3 separate regions of the Homo sapiens genome follow, and all the other regions are reported to be linked to region 3. The links are microRNA targets in miRTarBase. Many come from high-throughput screens and were not tested one by one. Region 3 holds a microRNA gene; each other region holds the end of a gene's coding sequence.
What was found. The annotated mature microRNA hsa-miR-4446-5p reads AUUUCCCUGCCAUUCCCUUGGC and lies in region 3 at 2,060-2,081, opposite strand. An mRNA with a match to its seed (bases 2 to 7 or 8) in the 3' UTR can be bound and repressed. Matches are read on the target gene's strand: a 7mer-m8 pairs with bases 2 to 8, a 7mer-A1 pairs with bases 2 to 7 and ends in A, and an 8mer does both.

Region 1: miRTarBase lists KCNMB4 as a target of hsa-miR-4446-5p. Seed matches in the 3' UTR shown: 7mer-A1 at 1,993-1,999.
Region 2: the mRNA of CHD5 is a reported target of hsa-miR-4446-5p. Seed matches in the 3' UTR shown: 7mer-m8 at 1,931-1,937.

Annotation. Positions count from the first base shown.
Region 1 is chr12:70,430,030-70,433,281 of GRCh38, reverse strand. KCNMB4 (potassium calcium-activated channel subfamily M regulatory beta subunit 4) reads right to left here. Exons shown (of 3, transcript NM_014505.6): 3 at 1-2,797. The coding sequence ends at 2,629. Among named protein-coding and RNA genes, the nearest start is that of PTPRB-AS1, 36 kb to the left of the region's middle.
Region 2 is chr1:6,103,406-6,106,657 of GRCh38, forward strand. It overlaps CHD5 (chromodomain helicase DNA binding protein 5), which reads right to left. Exons shown (of 42, transcript NM_015557.3): 39 at 3,211-3,252; 40 at 2,990-3,104; 41 at 2,829-2,882; 42 at 1-2,022. The coding sequence ends at 2,875. Among named protein-coding and RNA genes, the nearest start is that of KCNAB2, 59 kb to the left of the region's middle.
Region 3 is chr3:113,593,712-113,596,963 of GRCh38, reverse strand. It overlaps MIR4446 (microRNA 4446), which reads right to left and starts at 2,088; the gene lies at 2,022-2,088. The region is part of intron 10 of SIDT1 (SID1 transmembrane family member 1); the gene reads right to left.

The DNA.
Region 1 (3,252 bases), not on the chromosome of region 3:
GAGCCATCATATTTTGGGGTCTCTTTGTTACAGCAGTTTAGATCATTTTCTGATTTATACAAAAAGAGAATGAAAACATTAAGAAGGTAAGCTTATTTACCTTTTATGACCTTAAAATGTCCTCTGCTTGTTCTTTTGGGTTTTACCTTTAACAAGTATAAATAAGGTGCTTCAAATTTAATTGGCTGTAAGCAAGTAAGACCTTAAGACTACATGTGACCTTATGAATTCAGTGTGCTTCTCCCCTTTTCCAAAAATCAACCTACAGAATACAGTTGCATATACTTTTTCGGGATAAATGGAAGCGTTTAGTGTAAATGCATGAATATCAAACTGATAAATGAAAACTAAGATTGATATATATCAACTTCCCCTTTTTTCAACACAAATGTATATCCATGCACTATTCTAATCTACTACTCTGTAATCAATTAATCATAGACAACTGAATAAAGATAAAATGGATAAAGCAGACTTCGTCTCCCATAATGTGATGCAGAGATGATTATTTCTCGGACTCCCAGTTTCGTGTTACTCTATGCTTCAGAATAGTTCACTGTGTTGCTAAGACAACAAGGATGCTGCAACCGGAAACTGGGATTGAAGTCAAGGCACTGGAGCTGCCTCAAAAGATGTCATAAATAGTGTGTTCAAGGCCTTTTTCACAGTGAAACTGTAACTTTTGAATTAGAAAAAAAATTATTGGAGCCAAGCACGGTGGTGCACACCAGTAACCCCAGATACTTGGGAGGCTGAGGGAGGGGGATCGCTTGAGCCCAGGAGCTTGAGGCTGCAGTGTGCTATGATCATACCTGTGAATAGCTACTGCACTCCATCCTGGGCAACATAGCAAGATACCCATCTGTTAAAAAACAAAACACAAAAATAAACAGAAGAAGATTATACTCAATTCAACACCTTTCCACAGACTATGATTTTCAGTTATTCACATTCTAAGATTAAGAAAACATTGGCCTGTAATCCCAGCACTTTGGGAGGTGAAGTGGGCAGATCACAAGGTCAGGAGATTGAGACCATCCTGGCTAACACGGTGAAACCCCGTCTCTACTAAAAATACAAAAAAATTAGCCAGGCGTGGTGGTGCGTGCCTGTAGTCCCAGCTACTCGGGAGGCTGAGGCAGAGGAATGACTTGAACCCAGGAGGTGGAGACTGTAGTGAGCCGAGATCGTGCCACTGCACTCCAGCCTGGCAACAGAGTGAGACACCATCTCAAAAAAAAAAAAAAAAAAGAAAAAAGAAAACATTGGTATGTGGACTAAAGGTCAGGAAACCATCACTCCATATATACATATTACAGCTCCATGGAAATAACTGAGGGGAACTTGTCTTTAAATTCCAGTTTACCTTTATTCTAATAGAGGCATGTCTGAAGAGTATCAGAAGAAAACAAATGAAATTAGGTTGTCAGTTTTTCCTCCACTAACGATGTACATCTCACCTAAACAAAGGTTTGATTCTATGTAGTAAATAGGTTTGATGTTCACTGAGACCTGCGATTTGATACTTGGAATTTGAGTTTATAAAAAGATACAAAGAAATATGGTCTTCTCAATCAACTTTTGATAAAGGCACAGAAAGCTCATCAGTAGCAATGATGTGAGCTGGGTTGCATCTCCAGGTTTGTCTAAGCAAACTGCACAATGGCAGCAATCCTCCTGGTTTTAATACTCATAACATCAAGGCAAGGACAAAGAAAAAAAAATGCTTGAACTGATTTTGTTGTTTTTTTCTGACCTACAAAAAAAAAAAAAAATGAAAACAGCGTTTCACTAAGCTGAAGAGTGTCCTTCACATCATGTATATTGTATTGCACACAAACTTTTTTAACTCCGTCAAAAACAACAAGAACAGATGAATAAGGAAGCCCAGTGCTTTTTGAGATAGAAGCCTTCTTCAGAATCACCTCCCTCTCTTAAGAAGTAATCTGGTGAAAAATAATGGTTAGGCAAAGGCAGGTGTTGGAGGATATGTTTTCCCAATCTTTTAGAATCTCTTGCTTAAGAGACACAGAGGTGACTGGAGACTGAGTTACCAGTATACTATTCATTTTCCAAGCAGACGTCAAAAGATACTCTTTAATAGTGGAAACTGAGGGTTACACAGTAAGGTTCAGACTTCAGCAGGAATCCTTGTTGTCAAGTAAAAGTTTAACCTAGCAGAAGCAAATGAGACCCAGATGTCCTCACCTTTTTTTTTTTTTTAAACCCTGGTGTTCTAAGCATAAAAAAGGAAATAGAAAATAACACAGACCACTCTATTTTAATATTTTTAAGTAGCATAAATCATAATGGTTTGTATACTACACTGTACAAATAATATACTGTTACTTTTGAAAGAAAATGAACTTCTTATAGGGTTTTCTGAAATAGTTACTCCATACAGCTAAGATCTTGACCCTTTAGCCATTGCTACAGCAGATGGAATACAAGCTTTGAGGTTCCAAGTCTTCCAGTTGTGCCTGTTTCTGTTGCCACTGAGGGATGAGCCTCTCAGAGCCCTGTCGTGGCCCTGTCCATCTCCTGCGCCAGGAAACACAGGTTCCGCAGGTGGACGCGTGCCGATGAGTACAGCTTCTGTACTTTGCTTTCTACAAGCCTCCTTCCCCTTTAAGAGAACTTGCGCTTCTTCATGGCTTCCGCCTTGACCGCCAAGCTCTTGGCACAGATGGTCAGGACCACAATGAGAACGCCCACCACAAATGTCACCAGGGGCCAGAGGAAGCAATGCAGGAGGACAATCTCATCATGAGTGCGATGCAGAAGCACATCATCTGGTCTGCAAGACAATGGAGAATAAGAAAGAAAGGGCAGTCAAATGCCTTGGCACTGAAAAACTCTTTACAACCTAAAGCCAAACTTGCTTTCCATAACCATTATTGAAAGTAAAGGCTGCACTCTGACTATAAACACTGTATTTTTGTGCTTCAAACCCATTACAGAAAGTTTTGAGCTCTTGAGTCAAGTAATTGGTGCAAATTTATGTATTAATTATAATTTACATGTTACAAAGTGTCAAAAATGTATCTCTTATGCTATGATTTTTCTTCATTCTAAGTTACTTAATGTATTCCACTTTCTCATTCATCCTCTAATGTCCATTGGTCAAGGGGCTTGAATCAGTCAAAAAATTACTGATGGGTGAGCATTCTCCAACAAATCTGAACTAGACCTCAGCTCATAGGTGTGGCCCAAATGATCTTAATTCAGATAAAAAAAAAAAAAGGTCAGTTA
Region 2 (3,252 bases), not on the chromosome of region 3:
AGGGACCATCAGCCCTTGGGGTGGAGACACAGACCCCTGCCCTGACCGCCACAGGCCTCCAGTCCTGCTGCTCGGGACCTATCTGCTGTGGGCCAAGGAAGGTGGGCACTGCTCCCAACGAGGGCCAACCCCAGTGCTTGCCACTGCTTGTTTGGGGACGAGGGCACGGGAGTGAGCTTCTGACCCGAGCCAGGACCCTTTGCCAGGAGGCACCGCAGAGCACACAACACGCATGTGGATGAACCATAACATGTGAGCCCGCTGACAATCATCTCCACTCCAGGGTGCTCCCCACTACGCCCACGTGCAGTGTCAGGGTCGGGCTGGCCTTGCAGACCTGGATCCAGACTGGAGTGTGGGAATGCGCCAAGAGGAAGGACTTGTAGGTCCCGCCCTCCGGGGTTCAGAGACAGCCTCATTATGAGTGAGGCATATAGGGCTTAGGGAGGGCCAGGCAATCGCTCCAGTGTCTGCAACACAAGCTGGTGAATCCTGACCCAGCCCTGGCCCCCTCAGTCCCAGGCAGGCCCTCTCCAAGGAGCTGAGCCCCAGCCCGTGTGCACCTCCACCCCAGGCCCAGCTGGGTTTTTCACGCAGCCCTTTCCTAACATTCCCAGGATTCTGCACCCCAAGGCACCTTCCCTGGGAAGGTCCCAGTACAAGACTCAGAAACGCCTTCCAGGTCGACCTGGGGCCAGGAGAAGGATCACACACAAACAGGCCTAGGGAGGGCCTGACCTGCTCCCCATCTCCGTCCCCAACTTGGAGGGGCAGGGTCCGGGGGAGTGGGTGGGATTCCAACAACCCACATGTGGGAAGATGGTTTTGGGATGTCAGGGCGCTCCTGGCAGGAAACAAGGCAGCAAGCCCTTGGTGCTGCGGCTGGGAGGGGTCTGCAGAGGGCACTGGGTCCAGTCCCCCTCCAGGCAGAACTCTCCCCACGCCTTCCAAGAGTGCAGCCTCAGGCAAAAAGCCCCCGGGAAGGCCTTTCCAGGGACAGGGGAATGGGACAAGTCCAGGCCCCCAGGGGCAGCCCGGTTCCACCTCCGGAGGTGGGCAGGGTAGGCATCCCAGGGCACAGGGCAGGGCCAGGGTCTCCTGGGCCAGCTCAGGGCCCATGACCCTCCTTGCTGGGGCGCAGCTATCACTGCCCTTAACCACACCTCTGGCAGAAGGCAAACCCAACGCAGCAGTGGCTCCGAGGCAAGTGCTGCCCCCCCCCCAGCCCACCCTCCCTGGGATCATACGCTTCTGCCTGCTGTGAAGAGCCGGGGCCACAGGCCCCCCACTGGTAACAGAGTCCAGGGCCTTCAAGATGCGCTGGGCCGGGGACAGACACCTGCTGGCAGAGGATCCACCTCCCCACAAGGAGAGAGCAAACACCTGGCGGCCTCCAGCCTTGGCAGGAAGGAGGGGAAATGTCAGCCAGGGTCTCACCATAGGGCTGGACAGCGGCTCCCCAAACCTGCCCTGTCTGGTGCTGGGAGGCTCCAAGCGGGCAGGGGGCCAAATCAGAAGGGGCTGTCACACAGGTGCAGACAGGTCAGGTAGGGGACACTGAGGGCTCCTAGGGCACCGGGCGCCATGTCCTCCCCAGCTGGGCTGAGTCCACAGGGCAGTGCCAGGACTACCTTGGGTCTGGAACCCATCGGTAAAGAGACATCAGTGCTGCAGGTTCGAATCTTCCATACGTCATCCAACTTTTATCAAGACAAACGTGTTCAAGTCTTCAATAGGAAAGTGCAAAAGATGTACAAATAAATGAAATCTCTTCTAAGAAGTCGTCTGGAAAAGGTGGCGAGGGGGCACGTCCGGCGTGGTTGTGGGGGCAACGCTGTGTGGAAGAACACTTGAATTATGATGAGGTGGCACTTCTGGGCTCTGGCCCAGCTGAGCTGGGCCTCGTCCTCCATGTGATGGCATTACTAGGTTTCCCTTTTTGTCCCAAGGTGGCGCTGGCTCCTAAAAAGGTGGCAGCTTTTCTCTCCCATGTGGGTCGGGCAGGTGGCCCGGCAGGCGTGGCTGCAAAACGCAAATCAGTGGGTTAAGCAGGTGGGCAGTTATAGGGGGCATCAGGGTGGCACCCAACAGCCTGTAGCTGCTTCTCCACCTATCACAACCAACTATGATCGGGGTGCCCCCCAGCCATGACCTCCCAGCCACAGGCTGCCGGGCCAGGCCATGAGCTACACCCAGAGTGCCGAGAGCACCCAGGAAGCAGCAGTGGGCAGGGGCAGCCAGCCAGGAAGCCCCTCTGGAGCCTCCTCCAGCAAGACACGGTTCCCACAGGGACAGACACAGCGTAGTGGAGGCTGGTGGCCCCAGAGAAGACCAGAATGAACTGGCAGTTTCTCTGAAATAAGCCCCCTCTCCTGGCCAATAGCCCCCACAAAACCCTCAGCCACCCTCCTGGTCCTGGGCAGGAAGTGAGGGTGTAAGACAAGATGTGATGTCTGCCACCAGCAGGACAGCAGGGGCAGGACAGGGCTCCAGGCGGGGGCAGCAGTCTCTGACTTCCGCTGGGAACATGTGTGCAAATGAGAACACATGTGCACACACAGGAGCTCACCCAAGTCCACCGACCCCTTCATGTCCTGCCACCCCAGCCTCCCAGTGGACAGACACGCTGGCCACAAGGTGGTCCCAGGGCCAAGGGGGCAAGGTAGAGGGGCTCCAGGCAGGTGGGTGGCTCTCAAAGCCGCCGGAGGCAGTAAAAGCTCCAGGACTTAGGGACGGGAGTCAAGTGCAGGGGCAGGGCTGACTGTGGCCAGGCCTGGTTTGCCAGCAATGGGGTGGCGGGGAGGAACACAGCACCCAGCAGCCCTCACCTCAGCTGGAAATGAGCGCTGCAACACAGGGAAGTCTCGAGGACGGCTAGATATCTGTCAAAAAAAGAGGAGAGCCGGGCTTGCCTGACGTTGGCAGCAGCAGGCAGGCCGGGCCCGGCGGGCACCCGTGTGCATGCTGCCCGGAGCGGACGGGCACCTACCGGTCACATAGGGCCCCAGGGGCATCTGGTTGTAGTTGACAATCCCTCCCGGTCCAGGGCCCCGGAAGTTGGGCCCAAAGTTGTTGCTGTACATCTGGGAGGAGCCGAAAGCGCCCTGGAGGCAAGGACTCAGCTTCACAGGTGGTCTCAGGCCCCCCACCCAGCCTCCACCCAGGGGCACGCCAGGGGGCTCGGGCCGGGGCACACAGGCCGAGCCTGACCTGCTGGATGGTGGGGTCCCCGGCGCGGTTGGTCAGGCGGCT
Region 3 (3,252 bases):
TATCTCCACCAGATCTTGCTCTTGGCTAAGAGGCTGGTTCAGTAATGGCTGTATCCAGGGAAGGATTGGGTTGGCCATTTGGTTCTTAAATCTACAACCGATTAGGCCTGCCAAGCTCTTGCATTTGAGAAAGTAACCTCCTCTTCTGTTGTACCCCAGTTCCTGGTGGCAACTCAAGGGGTCCCAGAGGCCTGTTGGGGAGGCTTCATTATTTTTCTCAGCTGGTAACTGAATTTCTGTAGAGGCTCTTTAACAATGATGTGAAATGTGGGGTTTCTCTCTGATAAAGCCAGTGGAGGAAATGGTTTTAGAGCACAGAGCCTTTCTTAGTACCTCTCAGATTCTCACAGATGCCCTGTCTTTGGTATTAAGGATAATTAGACAATACAGGGTCCAGTCATTCATAGTACAGTAAAAAAGTCCCTTCAAGTCCCCTGGAGCAGCTCTTTGCCAACAGTATTTCCATCTCACCCAGGCTCCAGGGTCTAATCTTCTTCTTCATCCCATGAAGTATGAAATACATTTTTTTGCTTTTTATTATAGTTGGAGCTAACATGGAGATTTTCACATACAGCTTAATTAAATCACTTCAGGCATATCAAAGAAAAACAAATGCAGAGTAGCGCACAGATTTTCTGAGTGCATCCTTCCTAACTCCAACAGAGCTGCCACCAATTTGGCAACCTGTAGGGACCTGATTCCATTTCTTCCACTTCAGTCACGTCTAAGGTGAAAGCCTTAGGCTAAGTTCCACAGATATCTAGCTCCACAATGATGTGGGCAGAGACCGTATTAAGTCTAGTGGGATCCTCTTCCCCTTTAAGAAGCTGCTTCTAGCATTTTCTCTGGATATAAGCACCCAAGGCATTTCCTGTAACTCTGAGCTCCATCGAACTTCCTGTGCCCCATGGTCATGCTGATCCTGGCCTTGGGAGAGAAAGACATTTCTGTATCCTTGTTTCTTCCCTGAATGTCTGTCACTAGCTTCCAGATATGGTCCTTACTTGCCTCTGTCTCTTGCTCCTGGTTGATTTCTCTATGCTCTGTTTGAGATGCCTAAAAAAGTCACTGGTTCTTCCCTTGGGCAGTGCTTGTCTTCTGCTCTTGGTTTAAGCATCTAGGTCTTGACTCACCAGTGGTCATGACATTGGGGGTGATGCCATCATTCCCTGTGGCCTCTCTACCTTACAAAGGTTCCTTATTTTCTTCCTATTTCAAGACTTTTGTGTGGTGAATATTCCTATTCCCTACTTCTTACCTAAGCTGGTGTGTTATTTAGGTGTCTTCATGTGTTTAGGTCCATGGTTCTCAAACAGGGGGATGTGGGGAAAGAGTTTTGCCCCCAAAAAGACATTTGGCAATGTCTGGAGGCTTTTTTTTTTTTTGAGACACGGTCTTGCTCTGTCACCTAAGTTGGAGTGCAGTGGTGCGATCTCAGCTCACTGCAGCCCCAACATCCTGGGCTCAAGCGATCCTCCCATAGCAGCCTCCGAAGTAGCTGGAGCACAGGTGCACACCACCACGCCCACCTAATTTTGTTTATTTTTTGTTTTTATGAAGACGAAGTCTTACTATGTTGCCTAGGCTGGTCTCGAACTCCTAGGCCCAAACAATCCTCCAACCTCGGCCTCCCCAAATGCTGGGATTACAGGCATGAGCAACTGCACCAAGCCTGGAGGCATTTTTAGTTGTCCCAAGGAGGGGCAACTCCTAGAATCTAGTGCACGGAAGTGAAGGATGCTATTAAACATCCTATAAGATACAGAATAGCCCCCAACAACAAAGAATTATCTGGCCTATGATGTCAATAATATTGAGTTTGAGAAACTCTGGTCTTAGAGAAGAGGACCTAATCTTAATTCTGAAAGTAGGTTTATCTGATGTGTAGGTAAATCTGTTCTTTGCAGTGACTGGTTTAACAATAAGTGTATGATTCACTCTAGGCCAATGAAACACAAGAAGTTGCTGAGGGCTTCTTAAAAGGTCCTTCCCTCTGGTGCTGCCAGGTGAAGGTGTGAGCCTTGACCCATGTCACTGCCAGCCCTGGGAGTAAATTGAAGCCAAGGGAATGGCAGGGAAATGGACCAGAGCCACTGGACTCATCAATCCTGAAGTACATCTTTTGGCTCTACTTCCAGAGCTAGGAGTCTCTTTCTTGATTAAGCAGGTTTGAGATTTTTTTTTTCTTGTTGCTGTGGTTACCTACAGCCACATGAATCTCAATGATGCATCTTTACTCTTTTTGGTCACTCATTTGTTTCCGCTTACCATCAGAAGGGTACCTCCAGCTCTTAGCTAATTTTCAGAGCCTCCCTGAACCTGGACAATGATCTGGCTCAAGTCCCAGCTTTGTCCACTTATGCTTCAATGTTCAACAGACCCTTCTGAATGCAGAATTCCTTCAATAAATATTATTATAATAAAAAGACTTCACTCATACTATAAAAAATAACAGACTAACCATTCAGAGGCTACCCAATGGGATTCAATCGATTGGATGTAGGCCTAAGTTCAACTAGGCCTAAACTAATCACAAAACTTGGAGGCACAAAACTTTTTTCCTGTAGGAAAAAAGATGACATCCAGAGAGCAGACAAATTCATTTAAACATCTGACGACTAAAAGGGAGAGGAGCATTTAGCACTTTAAAGCCACGAGAGCAGGTGTTCTTTTATAGTCTTTTATATTGACAGCTGAATGTTTATAAAACAAAGTGCTTGGGTGGCTGGAAAAACAGGCATGCTGACATTAAGGAAGACAAACATTAAAAAGAAAAAAGCAAACTCTCCAGCAAAGGGAGCAATGATCCTGCTGGAGGGGGGTAGGGGGTGAGTTAAAGTCTTTCTAAGATTCTGTGGCCTCATTTAAGTGTGGAAAACACACACCTAAACATCTGCTATGTATGACTTAAAAACCAAGTTCCACTTCATATTCCTCTTTAACCAAATTCTTGCTCTATGCCAAATAACCTATGAGCACTGAGTTTAGGTTTTTCAAAAATGAGGACATTTAAATTTTTAATTTTGTTAAAAAGATCAGGTCATTGAATTCTTTTGTTCAAACTCTCAGAGTGGAGGAAAAGGCATAGTACAATTGCTGGATAGTCAATTACTCTGGATTCCCCCAAGTTATTATACTCTTTATTATACTTGCTAGGGTCAAGTATTTCAGTTTTCTAGACACTTAAGAAAGCCTCCATCTTAGTTTGGGAAAAAGTAAACCATGTATCAGAGTTGGCACAATACATTCTTA